Homo sapiens: one gene and its partners. The protein of the gene in region 3 purifies or fractionates together with the protein of the main gene of each other region. This does not show direct contact. Each region holds a gene or a part of one and is shown on either strand. Other genes may lie near its edges.

Evidence for each region.
Region 1: the proteins of MYT1L (region 3) and SUDS3 purify together in Homo sapiens (affinity purification with mass spectrometry, with the first as the bait; one large-scale study listed by BioGRID). This does not show direct contact.
Region 2: the proteins of MYT1L (region 3) and ACAD11 purify together in Homo sapiens (affinity purification with mass spectrometry, with the first as the bait; one large-scale study listed by BioGRID). This does not show direct contact.
Region 4: the proteins of MYT1L (region 3) and SPRYD3 purify together in Homo sapiens (affinity purification with mass spectrometry, with the first as the bait; one large-scale study listed by BioGRID). This does not show direct contact.
Region 5: the proteins of MYT1L (region 3) and MYCBP2 purify together in Homo sapiens (affinity purification with mass spectrometry, with the first as the bait; one large-scale study listed by BioGRID). This does not show direct contact.
Region 6: the proteins of MYT1L (region 3) and SAP130 purify together in Homo sapiens (affinity purification with mass spectrometry, with the first as the bait; one large-scale study listed by BioGRID). This does not show direct contact.
Region 7: the proteins of MYT1L (region 3) and CUX1 purify together in Homo sapiens (affinity purification with mass spectrometry, with the first as the bait; one large-scale study listed by BioGRID). This does not show direct contact.

Annotation. Positions count from the first base shown.
Region 1 is NC_000012.12:118,379,555-118,383,054, reverse strand, and holds part of SUDS3 (sin3 histone deacetylase corepressor complex component SDS3), read right to left. Parts: intron 2,894-3,500; coding exon 2,824-2,893; intron 2,086-2,823; exon of another isoform or gene 1,367-2,085; coding exon of another isoform or gene 1,221-1,366; intron 1,196-1,220; exon of another isoform or gene 1-1,195.
Region 2 is NC_000003.12:132,576,310-132,579,809, reverse strand, and holds part of ACAD11 (acyl-CoA dehydrogenase family member 11), read left to right. Parts: intron 1-251; coding exon 252-318; exon of another isoform or gene 319-928; coding exon 929-1,014; intron 1,015-2,794; coding exon 2,795-2,866; intron 2,867-3,500. UniProt on the Homo sapiens protein: Acyl-CoA dehydrogenase, that exhibits maximal activity towards saturated C22-CoA.
Region 3 is NC_000002.12:2,328,476-2,332,566, forward strand, and holds the start of MYT1L (myelin transcription factor 1-like protein), read right to left. Parts: upstream 2,801-4,091; 5' UTR 2,492-2,800; intron 1-2,491. UniProt on the Homo sapiens protein: Transcription factor that plays a key role in neuronal differentiation by specifically repressing expression of non-neuronal genes during neuron differentiation.
Region 4 is NC_000012.12:53,069,391-53,072,890, reverse strand, and holds part of SPRYD3 (SPRY domain-containing protein 3), read left to right. Parts: intron 1-3,500.
Region 5 is NC_000013.11:77,096,595-77,100,094, forward strand, and holds part of MYCBP2 (E3 ubiquitin-protein ligase MYCBP2), read right to left. Parts: intron 2,420-3,500; coding exon 776-2,419; intron 1-775. UniProt on the Homo sapiens protein: Atypical E3 ubiquitin-protein ligase which specifically mediates ubiquitination of threonine and serine residues on target proteins, instead of ubiquitinating lysine residues.
Region 6 is NC_000002.12:127,944,560-127,948,059, forward strand, and holds part of SAP130 (histone deacetylase complex subunit SAP130), read right to left. Parts: intron 1,001-3,500; coding exon 897-1,000; intron 1-896. UniProt on the Homo sapiens protein: Acts as a transcriptional repressor. May function in the assembly and/or enzymatic activity of the mSin3A corepressor complex or in mediating interactions between the complex and other regulatory complexes.
Region 7 is NC_000007.14:102,198,626-102,202,125, forward strand, and holds part of CUX1 (Homeobox protein cut-like 1), read left to right. Parts: intron 1-176; coding exon 177-242; intron 243-1,445; coding exon 1,446-1,547; intron 1,548-2,734; coding exon 2,735-3,500. UniProt on the Homo sapiens protein: May be involved in intra-Golgi retrograde transport.

The DNA of each region.
Region 1 (3,500 bases), on a different chromosome or scaffold from region 3:
TTCTGATGCACTTTAGATTTCCCCTTGAATTACACAAGGCATTCCATTTTAACCGAAATTTTTTCTGTATCATCAAATACTAAGGGAGGCCAGGCAAGGTGGCTCACGCCTGTAATCCCAGCACTTTAGGAGGCCGAGGCGGGTGGATCACTTGAGGTCAGGAGTTCGAGACCAACCTGGCCAACATGGTGAAACCCTGTCTCTACTTAAAAAAAAAAAATTAGCCAGACGTGGTGGTGGGCGCCTGTAATCCCAGCTACTCGTGAGGCTGAGGCAGAAGAATAGCTTGAACCCAGGGGCTGGAGGTTGCAGTGAGCCGAGATCATGCCACTGCACTCCAGCCTGGGCGACAGAGCAAGACCCTGTCTCTTAAAAAAAAAAAAAAAAAGGCTGGGCACATTGGCTTATTCTTGTAATCCTAGCACTCCAGGAGGCCGAAACAGGAGGAATGCTTGAGCTCAGGCATTCAAGACCAGCCTGGGCAACACAGTGAGACCTAGTTTCTACTAAAAATTTTAAAAATCAGCTGGGCGTGGTGGCACGTGCCTGTTGTCCCAGCTACTTGGAAGGCTGAGGTGGGAGGATCAATGGATTGAGCCCCAGAGGTTGAGACTGCAGTGAGCTGCTATCATGCCACTGCACTCCAGCCCAGGCAACAAAACAAGATACTGTCTCAAAAAAAAGTGGCTACTGTCTCAAAAAAAAGTGGCCTGGCACGATGGCTCAGGCCTGTAATCTCAACACGATGGGAGGCTGAAGCAAGCAGATCATCTGAGGTCAGGAGTTCAAGACCAGCCTGGCCAACATGGTGAAACCCCGTCTCTACTAAAAATACAACAACAAAAAAATCAGCCAGGCGTAGTGGCGCATGCCTGTAGTCCCAGCTACTCAGGAGGCTTAGCCATGACAATCACTCGAACTCAGGAGGTGGAGGTTGCAGTGAGACGAGATCATGCCATTGCACTCCAGCCTGGGTGACAGAGTGAGACTCTGTTTCAAAAAAAAAAAAAGTAATCCATCTTTATTCAGCACTGGTTAGACCTAGCTGAATTACCCCTTTGAGTTCCAAAGCACAAAAACAATGTGAGAATCCAGAGGATGGCCACAAAACATTTGCAAAAAGGACCTAAAGGGAAATGAATGTGGATCATCCTGTTAAAAGGTAAAGAACTTTAAAAACCTAACACATTCAACAAATATACATTAAATATACTTTATACCGTTTTCCATCTGGGTGTACGCTAAAAGTGAGTGAGGTTTTCGTTTCTCTGAATCTGTTCGGCTGTGGCTCTGTCTGAAGACAATGAGAAGGTTTGGGTGAGAGCAGGTGCAAACGTGGACAGAGCACTGGCCTGAGAGTCAGCATGTGGCCAGGCAGGGTCGCTCACGCCTGTAATCCCAGCACTTTGGGAGACCAAAGCAGGTGGATCACCTGAGGTCAAGAGTTTTGACACCAGCCTGGCCAACATGGAGAAACCCCGTCTCTATTAAAAATACGAAAATTATTAGCCGGGCATGGTGGCATGTGCCTGTAGTCCTTGCTACTCGGGAGGCTGAGGCAGGAGAATTGCTTGAGCCCAGGAGGCAGAGGTTGCAGTGAGCCGAGATCAGGCCACTGCACTCCAGCCTGGGCAACAAAGCGACACTCCATCTCCACACAAAAAAAATAAATAAATACAAAAATTAGCCGGGCATGGTGGTGCATGTCTATAATCCCAGCTACTTGGGAGGCTGAGGCAGGAGAATCACTTGAACCTGGGAGGTGGAGGTTGTGGTGAGCCAAGATTGCACCACTGCACTCCAGCCTGGGCAACCGAGCAAGACTCCATCTCAAAAAAAAAAATTAAACAAATAAAAATAAATAAATAAATAAATAAGAGTCAGCAGCCTGCTTTTCAATCGTGGCTTCTCTGAGCTCTCCAGGCCTCCGGCACCTTGTCTAGCACATTAGTGCAGTGAGTTTACACTCACCTGAGAACCCAATTGCTTCAAGACAACAATTACCCTCTCTGTGCATTGGTTTGCCCATTAAAAAAGAAAAGAAAAAAAAAGGTCCGGGCGCAGTGGCTCGCGCCTGTAATCCCAGCACTTTGGAAGGCCAAGGTGGGCGGATCACGAGCTCAGGAGTTCGAGACCAGCCTGGCCAACATGGTGAAACCCTGTCTCTACTAAAAATACAAAAATTAGCTGAGCGTGGTGGCGTGCACCTGTAATCCCAGCTACTCAGGAGGCTGAGGCAGGAGAATCATTTGAATCCGGAAGGCGGTGGTTGCAGTGAGGAGATCCTGCCACTGCACTCCAGTCTGGACGAAAGAGCAAGGCTCTGTCTCAAGGAAAAAAAAGAGTAAGTAGTAAAAGGTCCTCTCCTGTTGTACGGCCTCATTCCCTCCCCTGGGTCCATTGCCCTCAAGATTCTTTCTAGAGAGTACTCAACAAAGTCTTATAACGGGAAGACTGATTAAATGTAATTAATTTAAAGTGGAGAAATTGTAAACATACATGGTCTTTGGAAGCGCTATGGTCAAACTCATACACACAAGGTTACTACAGATTAAGTATCCCTTATCTGAAATGCTTGGGATCAGAAGTGTTTTGGATTTTTTCAAATTTTAGATTATTTGCAATATACTTACCAGCTGAGCATCCCACATCCAAAAATCTGAAATCTGAAATAGTGCAATGAGCATTTCCTTTGAGCATCATGCTGGCACTCAGGAAGTTTTAGATTTTGGAGCATCTGAGATTTCAGATTTGGGATGCTCAATCTATATAAAGATGTTGTCAATTCTATGTTCCAAAAAGACATAGGCATATCATACTCACTGTTCCTTCATTTCTACATAGTCTTCTTCATCATGCTTTGCCAGGTCAGTTTCACTAGCATCCTCAGTGTCTGAATAAAGTTAGGAAATAGGGGCTAGTTAAAATCATAATTCACGGAGTTGGCGTCACCTGACACAGAGTATGCACTCAATAAACTCCCGTAAAATCAATTTCTATTCAAGGCAGGCTTGCACAAAGCCATCAATGAAAAACATTACATACAGTTAGTAGGCCATCCCTATCTGCAAACACGAAACCTGTGGACACAAAAGGCCAATGCAAAGAATTTGAGTATCCTCAGGTTGTAGTATCCATGAAGTCCTGGAACCAGTCCCCCATAGATACCGAGGGACAGCCGTACTTCAGAAAAGAAAAGGCCATTTCCAACTTACAGTCAGATTTATGCAAAAAGCTTGCCTTTACCTGAAATGCAGCCACAGAATAGGGTGTCTCAGGCACAGGCAGTTATGGTGAAGGCTGCTACTTCTGCAGAAACAACAATGCTGGCAACTCAAGAAAGGAGATGCAGGCGTAAGACTGGACACTGCAGGCAGTCAAGCCTTACTCGCTGCTCCAGAAAAAAACTAGTATGTACATTCTCTTCTGATACATACCCAGTTGGAACCCTTCGCACATTTTACATCAGGATACACGGTTGTCCCTCAGTATCCGTGGGG
Region 2 (3,500 bases), on a different chromosome or scaffold from region 3:
TTCATGCTGCTTTGACTTCTGGTTATTTTTGTGTAGCAGCTTTCATTGATGGGGTCCATTCTTGGCCTTGCCTAATCATTTTTCTTGGATGATATAGAGTGTTACAAAAGAATTATTATCTTAATGAATCAGGAATGTTCTCTCTATTTGTTTTCTGACATAGGTAAAGTGGGAAGGATTAGAACCTTCAAGGTGAAATGTCAAACTAGAAATTTCCTTTTATAATCTGCTTGTGTTCCCCTTGGTTTTAGGAGCTGGGAATCCCAAGTGCAAAATTGCAATTGTTTTGGGAAGAACTCAAAATACTTCTCTCTCCAGGTAATTAAACAATTCTGATTGAGAAACCTGTGTAGGAATGAGCCAGTCTTCCTCCTATCTAGGTAATTTACTTAAAATTCACTGTTTGGACTCACAAATCATAATGTAAGATATGAGAGTAAATGTCATATATTTGTATTTCACAAGTATTTTCTAACAGGTGTTTTTGGAAAACATTATAGGGAGTATTGCTGAACATTCTTCGCTGTGGAATTTTCAGTATTAGAAAGTGTTGCTAAATTATCAAAGCTGTTTGGATTAAATTATCAGACAAATTTTTTCAGACCTGTGTAATGAAGTGATTAGATGTTTAGATCAAAGGCAATAATCTTGAAATGTTTAATTATATATATAAGTTCCCAGTTACCATTGTTGAGCAGTGAGAAGCTTCAATCAAACAACTCATTTATTTTCAAATCATTGTTTCTGTTCCAGATCACAGCCTGCATCAGACTATGTTGGTGTACGTCTTTTACACAGTTCCCATTCCAGTCATCACTGCTTACATGACTACATGAAAACATCAAAAAGACAATTGTGATTCTGCTTATTATCTGTTTTATTTTTCTTCTTAGCAAACTTTTTCTAATACAATTTTTCTTTTGACTAGACACAAACAGCACAGCATGATTCTTGTTCCCATGAACACACCTGGAGTAAAAATAATAAGGCCTTTGTCAGTTTTTGGCTACACAGGTAGGTATCCAATAAATATGACCATGCATTAGCAAGCAGGAAGGCTAGAATATGCAGTAACATTGAAGGCAATAGCATTTTAATGCATAAGATAGATTCTTAGATATTCCTTTGTCTGTGACAACTGTCTTAATATAAATGCTGGTGGAGTTCAGAGTAGAGCCAATAAAAAGAAATAGTATAGCATTTATGTAATTTATAATTATATAAATTATAGAATTTATAGAATATAAATTCTGCCTTTTTGGGAAAGGGCAGATTGTATTTAAGGAAGAGCAACACTACCAGTCTTTTCTCTGTCATTCATAAAAATGGATTAATGCACAGATAATCCACAATAAAATTATTTTTATCTCCAATTTTAGCCCTCTTAATCAATCAACTTACAAGAACTGTTAAAAAGCAATGAGTTTTTGACTTATTTGAGTGCAAAATTTTCCTTCCTCTGCCCTTGGGTGGGACTTCTAAGAAGCAAAGATCCATTTGTTTCCTGCCACCTACTGTGGCACGTGTTCATTGTGTACAATAAATATTTGCTAAGATCACCCTCTCAGCAAGTATTTGCTTAGCCACCATGCCCAGCTAATTTTTGTATTTTTAGTAGAGACGGGCTTTCACCATGTTGGCCAGGCTGGTCTCGAACTCCTGACCTCAGGTAATCCACCCTCCTCGGCCTCCCAAAGTGCTGGGATTATAGGTATGAGCCACCGGGCCCAGCCCCTGGCTTTCTTTTTATCATTGAATATGACTAATGAATATGTTCAAGTGGCAGATATAAGACTTGCAGTTTTATAGAATCACTTATCAGTTAAGATGCAGCTGTAGAGTATACCCACAGGGTAAGCATAGGTGGCAAGATGGGATGAGCAAGCTTGCTGGAGAAAATTGCATGTAGGAAATTGTTGGGTTGCAGCGAAACGGCCGCAAAGATACCAAAAATGCGTTTATAATATAGTTGAGCTGCAAATAATTTCCATTGCAGAGGCTACATTTGATTATTCAGTATGAAAACTTTACTAGCACCTCTCCAACTCCCTGTGTCCAGGGCCAAAAGAAACAGTGTGGAGAAGGCTGATTATTGTCTCCTCTGACAGGAAAAGGGTGTAGAGTTAGCATGAGATTATCTCTAAAACTTGGCAGGGAGAAGGGGTGATGCAAAGATAAAATGTGAACGTGTTCCTGGCCTCAGTGTTTCAAATGCCAGTATTTTCAAGAGACGAACACACAGTGGAACAAGTCTAGACTGGGAGTAAACCTACCTGAAGGTCTAGTTTCTGTATCATCACTAATGCCAAGCCTGCTCTTTCCCCTCAAGCAGGCCCCTGTCATCTTTAGGCGTTGGTTTCCACAATGATAAAATAAGAAACATGGATTACATTACTCATTTTTAATTTTTGAAACATTGAAACTTTTTTCCATGCAAATTGTTTGGAACCCCATATGTAAAATATTTCAAAGAAGCAGCAATAATAAAACAAATAAAATACTCTGGCTGGATCTATGGAGCCTGGTCTTCCTTTTTCCTAGCTCTCTGAAATTGTACTTCAGAGAATGAATTAGAAAACATCTGGATCAAAGGGTTTCTCTTCTTGAACAGTTGATGAGTTTTCTGGGCTGCTGGGTCCTGGGGTTCAGGGCTGAGGCTTACCTCAGAATGTTCATGCCATATGGATCTTTGAAATCCTATTTTCTTCAAGTAATTATATTTCAGCAGATTAAGAATATGTGACTCTTTTTTAGTCAACTCCTTTTGCTCTAAATTTTATTTTCTATTTTATAGATAATTTTCATGGAGGACATTTTGAGATCCATTTTAATCAAGTGCGAGTTCCTGCCACAAATCTAATACTAGGTGAGTTGAATTTGGAAATGATTCTTCAGTATTGTACATTAATATTTCAGCTCTAAATCTGGAAAAGATAAGTCTTTCCAGATTTAGACCTGAAGTCTACCTTGATTTAGATATTAGGTTCGTGCAAAAGTTATTGCGGTTTTTGAACTGCAATTACTTTTGCACCAAGGTAATTGCAGTTTTTGGCAAAAGCCGCAATTACTTTTGCACCAACCTAATACTTTCCCTTCTTGTTTACTCCATTTGTCAAGGGAAAGTTTTCTGTTTGGCGGATTTTCTTACATGGAATGGTGAGGTTTTATTTAAGTGTTGGATGTGGTTTTCTATATCACATCAATTGAAAAGATAATATGAAAATTATATAATTCAGAGCAATACACTTTCTCCTAGAACATGATCTGTAGGCCTCTATTTGTTTTAAGAAAACCTCAGTACTTTATGAATTCAAGTATTAGATATAAGTTAGAAGCATAAATAACTTTGAACACTGTATGCCATCCTCTTGCTTATTAGAATACTATATCCCTTTCAAAGAACATCTAGAATACCACCTCTTCCAGGAATGTTTTTGTGTTCATCCCATCCATTCACCAGGCCCCTGATACCTGCCAGGCCCTGAGGTTATAATGATGAA
Region 3 (4,091 bases):
TAATAATTTTTGTACACCACTCATATGTGGTCACAAATCATTGGGCCTTTACCTTGATCTCAGCTTCTAACACAAATTTGTGAAATTGGCATAAGTTCTGCTGTTGGATGCAAGTTTAACTCAAGAGAAGTTGAAATTTGTGTGTCATGCATACTTTCTACCTTACTGTGACACCAGATAGTCCTGGTGCATCTTTTCAAAGATGAATTTTATTAATAATTACATGTATTTGGATAAAATTTTCCAGTTGAAAAGTAATAATGTTTACAATTTTCCAACCCACAACTATACATATATACAAGTAATTTTTAACATATTGATATGTTTGAATATTTGGAAATAGAGTAAAATATGTGTATAATGGCAGATGGAAAGTCTTTACTAAATAAAAATGTTCAAGTATAGATATCTTTGCTGCCACCATCTTCAAAACATCCAAATGTGACCATGAAGGCTTCTCCTACTTCTACCTCAACTAGCACAATCATTAAGGTGATGAAAGTGAGCCATTTTCACATTGCCAATAAACTAGGAGGAAGTCAGTCACTGTTGAATGCAATCGCTATCAGCTGCGGACAGCTCCTGGTGCTGAAAGGGAAGGCAGAGAAGCCTGCTCACAATAGCTCACTCCACCAGCCTTTGAAAAATCACAGCAAAACTGAATGAGGTGGCAAGTGCTCAGCCTGAATAGCACTGTCTACAGAACAATGGCAGCCAACTCTAAATCCTACTATAATCACATTAATGAGATTAATCAGTGAATTAGCAGCAGTCAAATGTCAGGGAGGCAAGGAAGAATCCAACCAAGATTGGTAATTAACTTTTTGTGGGTGGGGGTGGGGAGGAGAGAAAAATCAACTGTGCTATCTCATAGGTTTTTTTAGATGTTGATAATTTTGATTCACGAATCTGAAGACTATATGTACAGATCAAAAGACAACAACATAATCCTTCATATTATAATATAGATCCAGATCTCATATTACTGATTCTTATAGTCCTCTGAGAAAGCTGATGTCACTTTAAATAATCTTCATAATCTATCAGAATTTTATTGTTTTAAATTCTTTAAATGCACAATTAATATTTAAAATAAACTTATTTCTCTGAAAATCAAGCTAAAATATAAAGAAATATGGCTGATTAAAAGCAGAAGGATTATATAACAACTGTTATTGTTTATGAAAAGTGTATGATAGTATGGTAAGAGTTTTCAAAGTGCAATCAAGTAAAGTACCATCACACACACACATCAGTAGTGGTCTATGTTAGTTAATAAAGAAAATTTATCACTCAAGTATAACTTTAAGGAGACTTTTAAGCAATTAACTTACTGCATTTGAGGTGATAGAATCATACATGTTCTTTTAGGTCAATCAGAAAAAACAAACTTCCTTTTTTTCTGGAATGTTTCTCTTAGTAGCATTTATAACTTACAATCAACACTTTGGATTCAAAGTTCTTGAGAGGTGAAAACTTATAGGAATGCAATGCTGTTTTTTTTTTTGAAAAGGAATATTTTATAAAACTCTTTTCTTTTAAAAATAATTACATTTTTATCTGTATGGGAGACATGACTTTATTATTTTTAAAGCTACATGACACTAAATGAAGATGAACAATTAGAAAGACCCTCATATGCCAGTAAGGGTGGTTTTGGGATGCTTTGGTCTATGACGTTAATTTTGTTTAGTAGAAAATATAAACATTTGAACAAAAAGGCTCTTATATAAAATAGTTTTACTCTAAGTAACTTAGAAATTATTTAGCTTATATAGCTTTGATGGTACAAGAAATTGTCATGGTTAATACTAAATTCAAAATCTGTTCTCTATATTTTATATAGCTAACTTTCATATAAATATTTACATATATATTTTTGCTTTATTCAGATCTATCTTAAAACTAAAGTGTAGAGTTTAATCTTTTAGTTTATTAATTTAGGTGTTACAAAAAGACATATTTCTGTTATAAATAACATTTTCTTTCATTATTATGAACTTCAAACATTTAAGTTAAATTTAAAAATCTTTATTTGAGTTTCTCCACTTAAACAATATAAATCAACTTTCTTCTTACCATCAGGTAAATTCATCCAAAATAGCTAACATTTTAATTGCCTTTGCATAAAATGATGTGCTTCATTTGTAATGTAAAGTAATCCAGTAAAGTCTCTGGGAAGTTTTTGTTTCAGTATCCTCTTATCCTCCAAACACCATACATGCACCCCGTTTTGTTTTTGTTTCTTTTTTTCTTAATAAACAACATCACAGTTAAGTCATGCAACCTAATACCCATTTTAGTTTAAAGACAGATTTTTTTGTGGATTACAAAGCCTCCAGTCCAGGAACATTTCAGCTACCAGCCATGCTGTAAAAATAACTTTAAAAAGGAGCAGACAATGGAATAGCAGCCTCAGCCCTTGAGCTACGGTAAAACACATCCTGCTCACTAAGTTCCCCGAAAAATTAACCTAACGAACATCACGTACCTCACAATGACCACAACCGCTCACAAGCGAAAGACAAGTTCAATTTTGGTAACTGTGCTGGCTCAAAATACACAGACAGGGAAGAAAACCCTGTTCCACCACAAGTTTGAAAGGATGATGAGACACATGCATGCCACCAAGACGCAGAAAAGGTGGCTTTTTGTCTTCAGTGAGTATGGATATCATAACCCATAGTCCAGGGAATGAAAAAATTAAAATGCACCCACCAACAATGAGCAAAAAACCCGGGGTGCTTCAACAAGACTGCAGGGAAAAGCTCTCTCACTGTTTAGTGTGCAGTAGCTTAGGGAAAAAAAAAATGTCGCCCGGGCAGGAATGACAAATGCAGCGCGATAGGCTCGCAGGCCTCAGGGATCTGTTTGACTTCCACACACCCCCATGCACACGCTCCCACTCATCCTCTCCTAGGCTTTTTTTTTTTTCCACATTTTTTTTTCACAAGCTCCAAATCCCCGGCATATGACCTTCTGTTAAATAGATAAAAAAAAAAATTGCTTATCAGTCATGCAAATGAGGCTGAATTCATTTTCCACAACAGATGGCCTCATAGATAATGATGATGGAAGAGAGAAAATTGAATGTCTCTCACAAGGTGGCCATGGCAACCGAGAGCAGAATAATATCAATAATAAACTCACTGCATAATAAGGTTGTCAGTCCTACAAATCAAAGTCTCCAGCTAAATCAGGTATACCACCCCAGCTAGTTACCAGGTAAATAGTACACACACACACACACACACACACACACACACACACTTCCACAGAGTGGCTTGAAATCTTTCATGGTCACTGTAAAATGTGTACGTGTGTGTGTCTGTTGGTGGCAAGAAGGGGTTGGGGGAGAGAATAGTTGGATAATGAAATGACAATGTGACTTTTTTCTTTTCCTTTCCTTTCATTATGTTTTCTGCAATAGACTCGGTTTCATGCAGGACCTTCTAACTAGCCATATTGAAATCGGGATGCGGTGCTGAAGGCTTTCTCTCCTCCCTCTGCCTCCGCGCTCTCGCTCTGATGTGCTGCATTGATGCAATAGCAGCTCGCCTCAGGCTTCCACCTTGGCTCCCAGGGGGACATCCTGCAAAATGAATCAGCAGCCATCCTGAGCAGGCTGATTAAAATGAAAATGGCAAGGCACATGTCTGGGCGGAACTGGAGCTCAGCTTTGCTGCTTGTCTGGCAAGCATGCTCAATATAGCTCTTGCTAATAATGGCTTACTGCCTTTCATTTTTTAAAAAGGTATCACCCTTTTCCCCCTTCACTGACTGGTGTTGTCTGTGTGTGTGTGTGTGGTGTGTGTGTGTGTGTGCACGTATGTGTGCGTGCATGTCGCGGGGGGAAACGAGAATGGATGGTTCTATTCTTCTAATTTTCTGCTGCTCACATGCAGACTGCCTGCCTGACAGCACCATTATTTTAACACTGAACTTACTTCAGCTTTTCTTTTGGGACAGGGTGGGGGGGCGGTTGATAAGTCTTGGGGCAGAAGGGCTAGTTTTAAAATCAAGCTGCCTAAAAGGCCCAGACAAGATTTTTACACTCCAGATTCAATAATTTCTAACCAAATCTGAAGCAA
Region 4 (3,500 bases), on a different chromosome or scaffold from region 3:
TGGTCAGAAGTCCACACATGTGGTGGAAGGTTCTTAGCCATCTTTTTTGAGGAAGTGTCAATGTCAGTTTCTATTGTCTTATCCCTGCATTTGATAGAGGATTAGAATGGAGGCAGATAAAGATTCAGTGAGCATCCTTACACCTCCAAACTTGCTTCATTTATCTTTTCCTCATACCTGCTTTAGTATGGATTTTAAGCTTCGTTGGGAAGCGTGTGGAGCTTGAGAAAGGGGAATTCTTCCTCCCCGGATTTTAAGTTTTGTTGGAAAATTCATGAACCTTGAGAAAGGAAAATTCTTCCTGTCTGCCTCAATACACTGTGCTGCATTGGGAGTGAATGGACGCCAAGTCCGGGATCTGGCCCTGACCTCTAGTGGGCTGCTCAGCCCTCCCACTTCGAATTGTCCCTCTCCTACCCCCTTGCTCCTGGCCTGGCCTTTTTCTCCACCCTCTGGCCTTTCCACCCCAACCCAGGCTGTTTTCAACTCAGTCTTTGATAACAAAACAGAAGCAGTGGGGGGTGGGAGCGGATTAGGAGCCAGGCCTCCCCCTGGTGGAGTGGAACTCAGGGAAAATGACAGGAAGTGTGCCCTCCTGCTGCTTCTGACACTCTGCACCCCCGTCTGGCATCAGGGTCCCAGGCTGCAGCGACCGAGAGCTAAGAGGCCTCAGATGCCCACTCCGTGACTCTCATGTCTTTCCTTTTTCCCCTCAATCTACCATCATTCTGACAACATCTACAGAGTTAAACTTGGGGCTGCGCCAGGGCGATGTTCCAGCTCTCATCTCTGACCTCTCCTCAAGAGTTTTTTCCTGGCATCCTTTCTCTGCCTGGACCTGTCCCCACTCTGCTCTCAGCTCCTCCCAGGCAATCTTTTCTAATTGATGCAGAATCCTGTAGACATTTATAAATAGCCTTCCTTCCTCCCCACCCTCCCCCCAACACCTTCAGCCACTTATTTAAGAGTGTTTTTCTTTTTTAGACATAAGCTGTTGAATTGGGCCCTTCTCTCAGACCCTCACCCCAGCTTGGGCCAGGTGGCAGGGTGGGAGCACTACTCCTGGGGCACCCGTTCCTCTGGGGCCAACTTGGATGTGAGCTTCCTGAGGGACATGTGCCTTTTTCCAGTCATGCCAACTTTCCTTTTTTTTTTTTTTTTTTTTTTAAGACAGGCTATCACTCTGTCACCCAGACTGGAGTGCTGGTTCACTTCAGCCTCCAACTCCCAGGCTCAAGGGATCCTCCCACCTTGGCCTCCCAAATTGCTGGGATTAGAGGCATGAGCCACTGCCCTGGGCCTCAACAGTTGTTAGATTTGAGTCTTTGGATATAGACAGACCTGGCTCTTTCTTGAGTGGAATTCTTCCCCTGCCTCCTGTGGCCTGTTTCCCCCTCCTAAAGAGTCTACCTCCTCAGAGCTCTGAGGGGTTGAGGAATTGCTGGGGCACTTGCCTCTCACCTCATCCCTGCCTCCAGGCCTCGCAAAGTGAGGTAATGTGGTGGAGGGGAGCTGGGGGCGGTAGGTAACAGCTGGGGGATTAGACTCATTCTGTGTTTGTGCCCTGTTCACAGCTCCTCTGACAACTCCTTAGTGACAGGGGCAACAGCTTTGGTACACACAGGGTGGTGAATGAGGCCCCGCCCTCCCAGGGGTCCTCCCCAGACCCAGCCCAGAGGGAGGCTGTGCTGGAGCCTGAGCTGGCCAGGAGAGTGTGTACTTGGTTCCTGTTTCAGTTGCTTCTGGGCCCTCAGGGCACTGAGCCCTTCCTTGCTCCTGTCAAGAGGGATTAGGGTCTCTGCTGGCAAGGGGAGGAGGGCGGATACCGGCAGGGGAGAAGAGGCTGGGAAGGTGCTACTGGTAGAGGGAGGGTGTGGAGTGCACGAGACTGTCCACACTCTGGTCTGCAGCCGCCACTCTGTGGCACTGAGTCATGTCTTTGGCTTCTTGGGGCTTTGGTGGTATGTGTGTATTAGGGGGAGACCCAAAGAAAGGGCTCCATCTTCCCCCACCAAAAATGCAGAGAAACATTTCTGTTGATTGGACATTGTTTGAGAGGAGACACATAGGGTAGAGTTGTCTGGGGAGTGGCCATCGTCCTGGTTGGCCTAAGGGACCATTGTAGTTGGAAGTAAGGGCTAAGATGAAAGATCATTTCCTTCTTTGTGATCGGCAATTCCAACGTAACCCCATTTACACTGATTTAGGGAGAGGCAGCAATGTGTATTGGTCACTTCATTAAGTCTTCCCACTTGTTTTTGGAAATTCAGGTAATCTTATCCCAGTTTACTGTTGAAGAAACCAAGGCTTAAGGAGGTGAATGTCATTTGCCTGAGGTTAGCGGCTGTTAAGTAATAGGAGTTAGGATTTGAACCCAGGTCTGTTGGATTCTGAGGTACAGGTTGAGGGACCAGCATCAAGATCCTAACAGTTCAGACTCTAAGGGTTAACCTTCACTCCTCCTCTAGGTTCCTAACAGCTATAGACCAAGGAGGCAGAGGAATGTACTCAAGAAAGAATCTGTCAGGGAGGCCAAATATTCCCCCCACTTCCACCCCTCTGAGTTCTCTGGGAAGGCTCAGGAGGGGTCGGGGGAGCTTTGTCCAGGAGCAGGAGAGTGGATCAGGAGGTTTATGATGGCTTTCACTGTGAGGGCTGGGCGGTCCCCTCTGAAGAGGGCACGCTGTACAAGCCTCACCTATACACTGTACAAGTACCTAGTCGTCCAGGACATCAGCATTCTGTCCGAAGTGCTCTGTGGTTGGCAGGTAGAGAGTGGGTTTTAAAGACCCATGTTGGGGTAGTCCGTCCTGGCTTTTAGCGTGAGAAAGCACCTCCACCCTATCCAGAGACAGAAATGCAGCAGCTACCCTCTTCTGAGCTGAGGCAAAGGGAGGGGCTGGCCGGGTATTTCCCAAGGATCAGGGTCTGGATCGGCTGTCTTTTGGCTCTGGAAATGGAGAACACTGTGTTTCCTACACCGAGGCCAGTTGGATAGAATGGGTCAAAGGCAGCTGTGGGGTCCCCCACCCAGTTCTGCAATGCTGGGTGGAGAGGGTGGGCTGGGGGCTGCTCTGCCTGGGTGGAGTCTAAACTAGTTAATGTGGATCAAGCCACACCCCTCCTGGCTTCCCGGGGAGAGAGGCAGAGGAGGAACCCAGGCTGAGCAGAGAATACACCATGAACAGAAGTCAAACAGTGTGGCCTTGGGGATGGGCTTAGGTGGTCTCCCGTGCATGCTGCTTTCCCCCTCATCCATCCCCAGTTATCTTTGGAGAGGAGGGAAGGATGGACTTGAGGTGGCGGGGCTGAGATCCAGGGCTGAGAAAGGCACCAAGCCCCTCTAGTCCTACTCTCAGAAGGGGTTAGTAGCACCCCGCTCTAAGCACCTGAGCTAAGCAGCGGCCGTCTGAGGCTGGGAGTGGGGATGCGGGAGCAGCCTCTGCTGGAGACACGCACAGGCTTCTGTGCTGGTGCAGGTGGGCATAATTCCTTTCCTG
Region 5 (3,500 bases), on a different chromosome or scaffold from region 3:
AAGTAGATATCTTATTTTTCAGGCTATTAACTATATCAGAAAAATAGCTTACTTGATCAAAAAGCAATCAATTAAATGATGCCCCAAATATGAGAGATACTTAGTTTCTAATCAGGCATATTAAAAGAGAGATAGAATATAGGTATATTTAGATATACTTAATTATGTCAATAAAATTAGACAATACAAGTATAAAAGTTCTATAACAATGATATATTTTCAGAAATCACATATTCATAAGACATTTGAGGTATAATATGTAGACAAAGAAAAAAATTAACCAAATTTGTATTAGGTGAATTTGGAATATTAGTCAATGTTACAGAAATCATTACATTTACTGAAAATGCAGTCTTCTGATAAAACAATATCACTTCCGTAGGAAAAAGCCTATAGAAATCAATCTAATCTAATTTAATTTGCAATTCTGAACAGGAAAATAGTAAAATCAAAGGAGATGCCCTGTGTGTATGGGCATGCCACTGTTTCTGCTGTGTGAGACAGACACATTAATGGCACACCCTTTGGGTAACACATAATATTTTTTAAAACATGCTACATGAAAGTGAAATAGCACTAAATGACCTGGCCATCATAATATTAGAATTTATCTGTTTTTCACAAAACCCTGTACTGATAATGTACTTTAAAAATGACATTCTAAGATACTATAAATTCCCTATCCTTTGACAAAATTCATAGAACAGCTCAAATAAAGTGATCTGGTTCATTAAAGAAAAAAGCACTTATACGTACATTCAACAGTATCATTTACCTGGGTGAGCTTGTCTCATGTGATAGGTCACCGGGTATGGATGTGACTCCCCACACAGTTCACAGATGGTATCTTTCTCTGGTCCTCCTACTGCCAGCTGGGCCATCTCTCCAAACAAATTACCCCTGGGCCTAACTTCTGCCTTTTCTTTTTTCTTTTTTTCCTTTTTGGACTTCTTATTCTCTTTCTCACACTCTTTCTTTTTAAGAACTGCACAGGAACCAGGACTTGGAAAAATCATATTCTGGGAAGCAGCTTTGATAGTAGCCAAAGAGATGTCTTCCCAAAAAGCCACTAAATGTTGTAAAGTTAAGGGAAGAGGAGACTTAGACTTCATTGTGTTATGCATGGACATTTCAAAAGTGGTCTCGGTTTTCCCATCCTCACATTTTTCATGCAGAGGTGGTTCCTTAAGCATAGACAATACCTTGTTTTTGTTGATGCTACCCATCTTAGATATATCTGGTCCATGGGGTGCAATATTAAACATATTCAGTGCAGATGATATTTCTAATGAATGTCTATTTTTTAACTTGGTTTCTTTTTCCTCTGTAGGTTGTTGGCTATTTAAACTACTCCTTATAGGAGCATGTTCTTTGGAAAGTTCAGGATGAAACTTTAGGAAAGAAGAACAAGCCATTGCATCATGTACTATGCCTTCATGCCAGAGGAAGGAAGCAAACACAGCTCTGGCACATTCGGCCACAGAAGGAGACATGGCTTGCTTGGCTGGCTCTAAAGGCTTGGATCCATCTCCTTTGAAAAGAAAACTCGATTTTTCTTTTTTGGGCCTGGTGTGTCTATTAGCACATTTTCGACTTATTTTGGGAGATGCTCTCATTTCCTGTTCATCTTTCAGTGGTGCTTTTCCAATGCTAAAATGAACTTTATTTGAACCTTCATCCACACTCTTAAATTCACTGCTGTCATCGCAGGTGCTGTCTGTTAGACTATTTGTTTTTAAAGTACTTGAGGTGCAGACTTCGACCACCTCACTGTGGAGGTTTTCCTGTACCACATGGGGAGAGGGAGCTCTATTTTCAGATCCAGGGGAATCTGTAGAATCCTTTGGTACTGATTTTGGTTTTGGTGACGTTGACCGTCCTCTCAAAGGTTCTGTGAGGGGCATTTTCTTCTTGCGGAGGGTATCTGGATCAAGTGTGTAAGAGTCTGATTTAGAACGTTCCCGAGGAGGATCAAGCTTTGTCTTAACAGGAGCAGTACTTTTTTGAGGTAGATTTTTATCATGTGGTGAGGAGGAGCGTGGAGAACTAGCACCCGATGGGCTAGACCTATTGGCTGGGAGAGTCTTTGGCTTAGGAGATGACAACCGAGAACCTGGTCCTGGGGATTCAGCTCTGGAGCTAGAAGGCATCCTCCCATCAGATTTCAATGTCTGCAAGGTGTTATGGTTGGGGGATAATGACCTACTGTGGGAATCTGACCTCAACTTTGCAGCATCAGATTTTAAGATGAGGGATTCACTAGCAGATAAACTTTCTGTGCCCCTTGGCTTCTTCTGATCAGCAGTAGTCCGGCTCATACGTCCATCAGGTTTAAGCGATCTGCTGTGTTTAGAGGACAGCTCTGATTTTCCTGATGTAGAGGCTGGTTTAGAAGATGTTGAGATGTTTCCTCGATCACCTGTATGGTCCATTTTACAGTGAAACTTATTAATAAAATTATAACTTACTGATAATTTAGCCACTAAACACTGAAATAAAAAAACATAGCTACAAAATTTATATTGTTTGTCATACATACTAAAATACTTGAAGAATAAAGGAAAGAAGGGGGAAATATTTCTAATAAAATTTCTACACATCATTACACAACATTACCACCAAAAACTATTTTCATGGACGCAAAACAACAGGTTGAACAAATCCAGTGTGAACTATCAGTGATATCTCAACCTCTGCCCTAGTGCAATAACTAGTTAGAATTTAAATTCAGTGAGGGACTAGAAAGAGACAGAAATTAATCTTTTGGGGAATAAGAAATTATTTAATGTGAAAACTTGTATTTTAAATGTAGAGTAGAGCTAAATTTCCAGCAGAGTGATACCTCGCATCCTTAGGGCAACGGTATGGGTTTTGTTGAATTAGAGAACTGAATTTATGCATAGACACAATTATAATTTTTAAGTGTATGCATACAATTAGGCTAACAAAGAGTTGCTTAAGAGGCACTCTGTTTTATGATCAGATTAGACTAGTTTACAATGAGCACATGAATGCCCTGAAGCTGTTATTTAATTATTTATAAACAGGTTACACTCCAAAAGTTCAGGAAGCTTAGCTGCTTAGAACTCAGAGCCTGTGTTCCCTTGGAAACCACAGAAACGGTGGATCCTCAGAATGAGTGGTAAAAGTCTGAACTGTGGACCCTCAAAACAAGGAGTCAGGAGAATGACAGAAAAACAGGATGAAAAGAAGAATCACCTCCCTTTTCTAAGGCAAAGCATTAGATGTTTCTGCATGGACATTAATTGTTTTTAGCACCCTGCCTTCATTCAGTGTCTCTCCTTCATTCTATTTTATGCTTTTCTTTGAGGCATTAGAGCCAGGCTGTCTGTGACCCAAGTAAATGGTACAAACTTCAACATCACCTTTCCTCCTTAAAATAAAAACTTCTACTCTTAGTGCAAGTGATACCAGTTAGTTGTTAGGAGAAAAGCAATCTGACTGAAGGGTTTCAAGTGGTATAAAAAACTGAAAATCCA
Region 6 (3,500 bases), about 130 Mb from region 3:
GCTGGCATTACAGGCGCCTGCCACCACGCCCAGCTTATTTTTGTATTTTTAGTAGAGACAGGGGTTTCACCATGTTGGCCATGGTCTCGAACTCCTGACCTCGTGATCTGTCCACCTCGGCCTCCCAAAGTGCTGGGATTACAGATGTGAGCCACCGTGCCTGGCCTCTACAAAAAATTTTAAAAAATCAGCTGTGTGCAGTGGCTCACACCTGCAGTCCCAGCTGTTTGGGGGTGCTGAGGTGAGAGGATTAACTTAAGCCCAGCAGGTTGATCATGGCTGTAGTAAGCCATGGTCGTGCCACTGCACTCCAACCTGGGTAACAGAGCAAGACCTTGTCTCAAAAAAAAAAAAAAAAAAAAAAAGAACAGGAGAGAGGGAGAGGTATGCCCCGGTCTCTGAATGATGATGTGTGTGACTGGCTTATCTGAGTAACATTGGAAATTGGAATACTGGAAGCTGGCAGGGAACTGGAGCCTACTACTCAGCAAGGAGCAGGAATTGTGTGCCTGGTCCCTGTGGTATGAAGGGTTGTTTGCCTAGGAGACTTCATCTGAGGGAGCAGAGTTGGGAGGAGGGACTCTCGGTTAGGCCGTTTGAGGCTCCCCCTATTTCAGATGTCACAATATCACATAACACTGAATCTTAAATTTAGGTCTTACACCACAGTTGTTCCATATATTTTGGATCTGGATACCAGAACTTAGATATATTTCAATTTTAATCACATGTAACTGACACAGTGTGATATTACATAGCACACATAAAAATTCTATCATAACCCATGTTAGCTGGGAATGCTTCAGAGTTACTTTTAAAAAGTTCTATGAACTCAGCTATCTGCAGTGTCTTCTCCTCTCTTCAGCATGATGAACAACTGCTAGAACTCCACCTACCAGCTGTAGTAACTGGGCAGCACAGAGGTGGACTTTCCAGCCTTGAGCACGACAGGATACTCCTTTCTGATTAGCTATTTCCTGCAGCATAGCTTTCTTCTCCTCTGGAACCATAAAAAATAAAAATACATGTATTTCAGTGTTTAAAAAGGTAAATGATTTGTGTTCGAGCAGTGTAAATGCCATTATTTTAACAAGAATTTTATTTTTTTTTTGAGACAGTGTCTGGCTCTGTCACCCAGGCTGAAGTGCAGTGGTACAATCTCAGGTCACTGCAACCCCTGCCTCCTAGGCTCAAATGATTCTCCCACTTCGGCCTCCCAAGTAGCTGGGACTACAGGTGTGCGCCATCATGCTGGGCTCACTTTTGTATTTTTTGTAGAGATGAGGTCTTGCTATGTTGCCCAGGTTGGTCTTGAACTCCTGGGCTCAAGCAATTTGCCTGCCATGGCCTCCCAAAGTGTTGGGATTATAGGCATGAGCTGCCGTACCTGGCCATAAGAACTTTTTTATTTGAGGTAATGGTTTCATCTAGGAGAGGCAAGCCAAGAGGACACCAGGCTGCTTACTCCCCTCCTTTACCTCCACTAAGTGCTACCTCCTAAAGCAGGGCTGTCACTCAGAGAGAAGCTTGCCACGTGTCAAGCCAGGGCCTCCCCCATCTCTAAGGCCCTGGTTCAAACATTTTGCCGGAAGAAGTGGGCTGTAAAACAGATACCTTCTAATTTCTTCCTGAAGGAAGTGAGTCCATTTGCAAGAGTGTGAAGAAGTTCAAACCTAAAGGTGCTCCCCATAACAGTGGAGGCTGTGGCAAAGGGAATTGGGGGAGATTTGTGAACTAATGAAGATATAGCCTAGACTATGTGCAGGCTGGTTTGAAGGAAAGAACAAAGCATAAGACAGCTGGGGGAGCCTTTCCAAGGGCAGAACAACTTTATCAAATCAAGGAAGAACCCTTCTTTTTCTGTTTTTGAACACTGTTTATCATGAAAAGGTGTTTAATTTTGTCAAATTTTCTATATTGATTGATACAATCATGTGATTTTTCTTCTTTAGCTTTTGTTGTGGGTTGAATGGTTTTCCCCCCAAAGACATGTTGAAGATCCTTGGTACCTGTGACTATAACTATATTAGAATGTAATGTAGTCTGACCGCAGTGGCTCACACCTGTAATCCCAGCACTTTGGGAGGCCGAGGCAGGTGGATCACTTGAGGTCAGGAGTTCGAGACCAGCCTGGCCAACATGGTGAAACCCTGTCTCTACTAAAAATACAAAAAATTAGCGGGGTGTGGTGGTGGGCGCCTATAATCCCAGCTACTCAGGAGGCTGAGGCAGGAGAATTGCTTGAACCCAGGAGGCGGAGGTTGCAGTGAGCTAAGATCGCACCATTGTACTGCAGCCTGGGGGACAGAGCGAGACTCCGTCACAAGAAAAAACAAACAAAAAAGGTAATTTGGTTAAGAAGTCATACTAGATTAAGGTGAGCTGTAAATCCAATGACTGGTGTCCATACAAGGAGGGAGGGAGACAGAGAAGTAGAGAGAGAGAGAGAAAAGGAAGGGGAGAGAAGGAGAGAGAGAGAGAAAGGAGGATGGGAGAGGCAGAGAGACACAGAGAAGAATGCCATTTGAAGATGGAGGCAGGGACTGGAGTGGTGCAGGTGCAAGCCAGGAACACCAAAGATCGCTGGCAATCACAAGAAACCAAAGAGACAAGGAAGGATTCTCCTCTACTGCTTTCACAGAGAACATGATCCTATCAGACCTTTATTCTGGACTTCTAGCCCCCAGAACCATGAGAATAATTTGTACTGTTTTATGCCACCCAGTTCACAGTACTTTGTTATGGCAACCCTAGGAAATTAATAAGGCCAGTTAATATGGTGGATTACTTTGGTTTTCAAATGTTGAACCAGCTTTGCACAGCAAGAAAAAATTCTACTTGGTCAAGGTATATACTGCTGGATCTGATTTGCTAATATTTTATTAATGCATTTTTACATCTATATTCATGAGGAATATTGATCTGTCATTTTCTATATTTGTACACTCTGTCTGGTGTTGATAGCATGAAAATATTGGCTTCATAAAATAAATTTGGAATGTCCTTGCCTATATTTTAAAAGACACTGCAGAGAAATGGATCATTACCTGGTCAGCCGATTATCTTATCAGTATGTAATATCCCTCTGTGTCTCTAGCAATTTTCTTTCCTCAGAATTTTACTCTATGTGACATTAATATAGCCACTCCTGCTTTTCTGTAAATTAATTTCATATTGTGTGAATTAATTTTGTATTGTGTGTGTCTGTGTGTGTGTGTGTGTGTGTGTGTGTGTGTGTGTGTTTTGAGACGGAGTCTCACTCTGTCACCTAGGCTGAAGAGCAGTAGCATGATCTCGGCTTACTGCAAACCTCCACTTCCCGGGGATTCATGCAATTCTCCTGCCTCAGCCTCCTGAATAGTTGAAATTACAGGTGTGTACCACCATGCCTGGCTAATTTTTATATTTTCAGTAGGGACGAGGTTTCACCATGTTGGCCAAGCTGGTCTTGAACTCCTGACCTCAGGTGATCCAGCCATCTTGGCCTCCCAAAGTGCTGG
Region 7 (3,500 bases), on a different chromosome or scaffold from region 3:
GGCCGGTCAGCCAGGGAAGGGCCTCTCAGAAGATTCTAGAAACTCCCGAGTTGCACAGGCAGCCCTGAGCCCTTTCTTTAGTGACAGGCGGCTCAGATTTCATGTCACACAGCCCATATCGTCAACACCACCATTCCCCTGATTGTTTTGTTCTTACCACACTTGTTTTTCAACAGAGAATCCAGGCCAGAGCCTGAACAGACTATTTCAGGAAGTACCGAAACGAAGAAATGGGTCTGAAGGTATGTTGCAGGCAGGCGTTTTCTTTGCAGTCAGTCACCTAGGGAAGCAGCATGTCCTTAGCTGTGTATTTGGGTTAAAACTGTGCAGTGTGATTCTGGCCTGGAACCTGATGGAAAAACAGCTAGTAAGTATAAAACAAGGCACGGGTTCAAGCACACCCAGCCCCTTCCTCCCGAGCTGCCTGCCCTCTCCCAAGCACAGGCGGGGGTGAGAAGAGGCATTGCTAAGCTAAGCCCCCCGAGTCTGAATCCCAGCCCACTTCAGATCCTAATTACCCGGTCCCCCGTTTTTCTCAGACGCAGTTGAAAAAATAACAGCGGTTGCTCTGAGAAAAGTCAGGTGACCCGTCAAATTAAATACTGCTGCTTCCTCGTATTTTTAACTCGGAAACACACTCAAGGTCCTATGGAACGGACGCATCCCACATCGTCCCGGTGGCATACTTGTTTTTAAATGGTGGTATACTTGTTTTGAATGCAGTGGTTCCTATTTAGGAAGGTAGTAAGAAATTAAACTATCCGGGTGGCTTCCCGAAAGAGCTGGGGCCAGCCCCTGGGCCATAGTAGCCTCATTTCGTCGGCACGTGTGCCTGCACAAAACATCACCATGTGGCCGAAAGAATCCATCCTCCCCACTTAGGAATTTCTGCAGGCTCCTTTCCTCGTATGTAAATTTTAAAAAGATATTATGTGATAATAGGTGCAAACAATTTTTTAAGTTAAGCCTTTCTTCACCCTGTGCCTCTGAATGATTGATAGACAATCAGCCTCAAACCCTCTGCCCTCCTTTTCCGTTTATCCTGTGTGGGACCCCAGCATCCAATAAACATCTAACCCCGAGGAGAGTCAGTCCCAAGCCACAGCAGTTGCTTCTAAGTGACTCATGAGAAACATTGCCTTTTAATCACTCGCCTTTTATATATATGGATTAAATGATCGGTTCTCCCGGGTACTAACCCACGGGTGGTGTCCGGCTTTGGCAGAGTAACATTGACCGTAAGGTCAAATGAGCAGGAAATCCCTCCTGCCCGGTGTCGCTGTGAAGTTGCACTCACAGCAAACACAGGCCACTGGGAGGCCACATCTGCCTCCTTGTGTCACCAGCCCCCACCCGGGGCTATATATCAGAATGACGTCTTCGCGCAGCGCTGATTTTTGTCCGGGGTTTGGGTTTGATGTCATTGGCGCAACTTCTCCCCACAGGTAACATCACCACCCGGATCCGAGCCTCGGAGACTGGCTCTGATGAAGCCATCAAGTCCATCCTAGAGCAAGCCAAGAGGGAGCTCCAAGTGCAGAAAACTGGTACAGCTTCCATTTCTTCATCCACTGTCTTCAAACTTAATTAAGAGAATTGTCATGAGTGCTCTGGTCAGCAGTAATTAACTATTTTTTTTTTAAACAATAATGAATGCCTGTTCTCAAGCATTTAGGCACGTAGAGAGAAGCAGGTCTGTGTGATCTGTATTTGCCTAATAGTTACCTTTTTTTTTGAGATGCAGTCTCTCTCTGTTGCCTGTGCTGGAGTGCAGTGGCACGATCTCAGCTCACTGCAACCTCTGCCTCCCGGGTTTAAGCGATTCTCCTGCCTCAGTCTCCCGAGTAGCTGGGACTATAGACATGTGCCACCATGCCCATGATATTTGTGTTTTTAGTAGAGACGGGGTTTTACCATGTCGGCCAGGCTGGTCTCGAACTCCTGACCTCCAGTGATCCTCCCACCTCGGCCTCCCACGGTGCTGGGATTACAGGTGTGAGCCACCGCGCCTGGCCCCTAGTTGTAATTATTCACAGAAATTACGCTCCTTAACTTTGACAGAACCACTTGCATTTCAGAATATAGCACAGGAAAATGAATACCAAGTATAAAAATTATCAGAGGTCAGGCGCGGTGGCTCACACCTGCAATCCTGGCATTTTGGGAAGCTGATGGGGGAGGATGACTTGAGTTCAGGAGTTTAAGACCAGCCTATGCAACACAGTGAGAGACCTTGTCTCTTAAAACACTAGCCAGGCATGGTGGCATGCACCTGTGGTCCCAGCTACTTGGGAGGCTGAGCTGGGAGGATTGCTTGAGCCAGGGAGGTGGAGGGTGGGTACAGTGAGCCGTGATCGTGCCACTGCGCTCCAGCCTGGACAACAGCGAGATCCTGTCGCTAAAAAAAAAAAAAAAAAAAAAAAAAAAAATTCTCGGGGAAAGGAGCCCCAGGAGGGCAGGTCGGGGAGCACTTTCACTGACACCCCCTTTATTACCCTCTACATCTGTGTGTATACCAAAGGCCACCAGGTCATCAAGCTGTAGTGTCAGGCCCTGGTCCTTGGTTGAGACAAGATGCCTGAATGTTTCACTGACAGGGGCCATGCTGGGGAAATACACAGTGTGGTTCTCCCAAATAACCCACACTTTGCAGTAGGTCAAGTTAGGATGAGAAGCATGTCCCCAGCTGAAGGGGGCCGCCCTGCCACACTCTCACCCCTGTTTCTCCATGCAGCAGAGCCGGCCCAGCCTTCCTCCGCATCCGGCAGCGGGAACTCTGATGACGCCATCCGCTCCATCCTGCAGCAAGCCCGCCGGGAGATGGAGGCCCAGCAGGCTGCCCTCGACCCTGCCTTAAAGCAGGCACCACTGTCCCAGAGTGACATCACCATCCTCACCCCCAAGCTTCTGTCCACCTCGCCCATGCCCACCGTGTCCAGCTACCCACCTCTCGCCATCTCCCTGAAGAAGCCCTCCGCAGCTCCTGAGGCCGGTGCCTCTGCTCTGCCGAACCCCCCGGCCCTCAAAAAGGAGGCCCAGGACGCCCCCGGGCTGGACCCCCAGGGAGCAGCCGATTGTGCACAAGGGGTCCTGAGACAGGTGAAAAATGAGGTGGGCCGCAGCGGTGCCTGGAAGGACCACTGGTGGAGCGCGGTGCAGCCGGAGAGAAGAAATGCCGCCTCCTCCGAGGAGGCCAAGGCCGAAGAAACGGGCGGCGGGAAAGAGAAGGGCAGCGGTGGCAGCGGAGGTGGCAGCCAGCCTCGGGCCGAGCGCAGTCAGCTCCAGGGACCCTCGTCGTCAGAGTACTGGAAGGAGTGGCCCAGCGCTGAGTCCCCATACTCCCAGAGCTCAGAGCTGAGTCTGACCGGGGCCAGCCGCAGCGAGACACCACAGAACAGCCCCCTGCCATCCTCCCCGATCGTGCCCATGTCCAAGCCCACCAAGCCCTCGGTCCCCCCGCTGACCCCCGAGCAGTACGAGGTCTACATGTACCAGGAGGT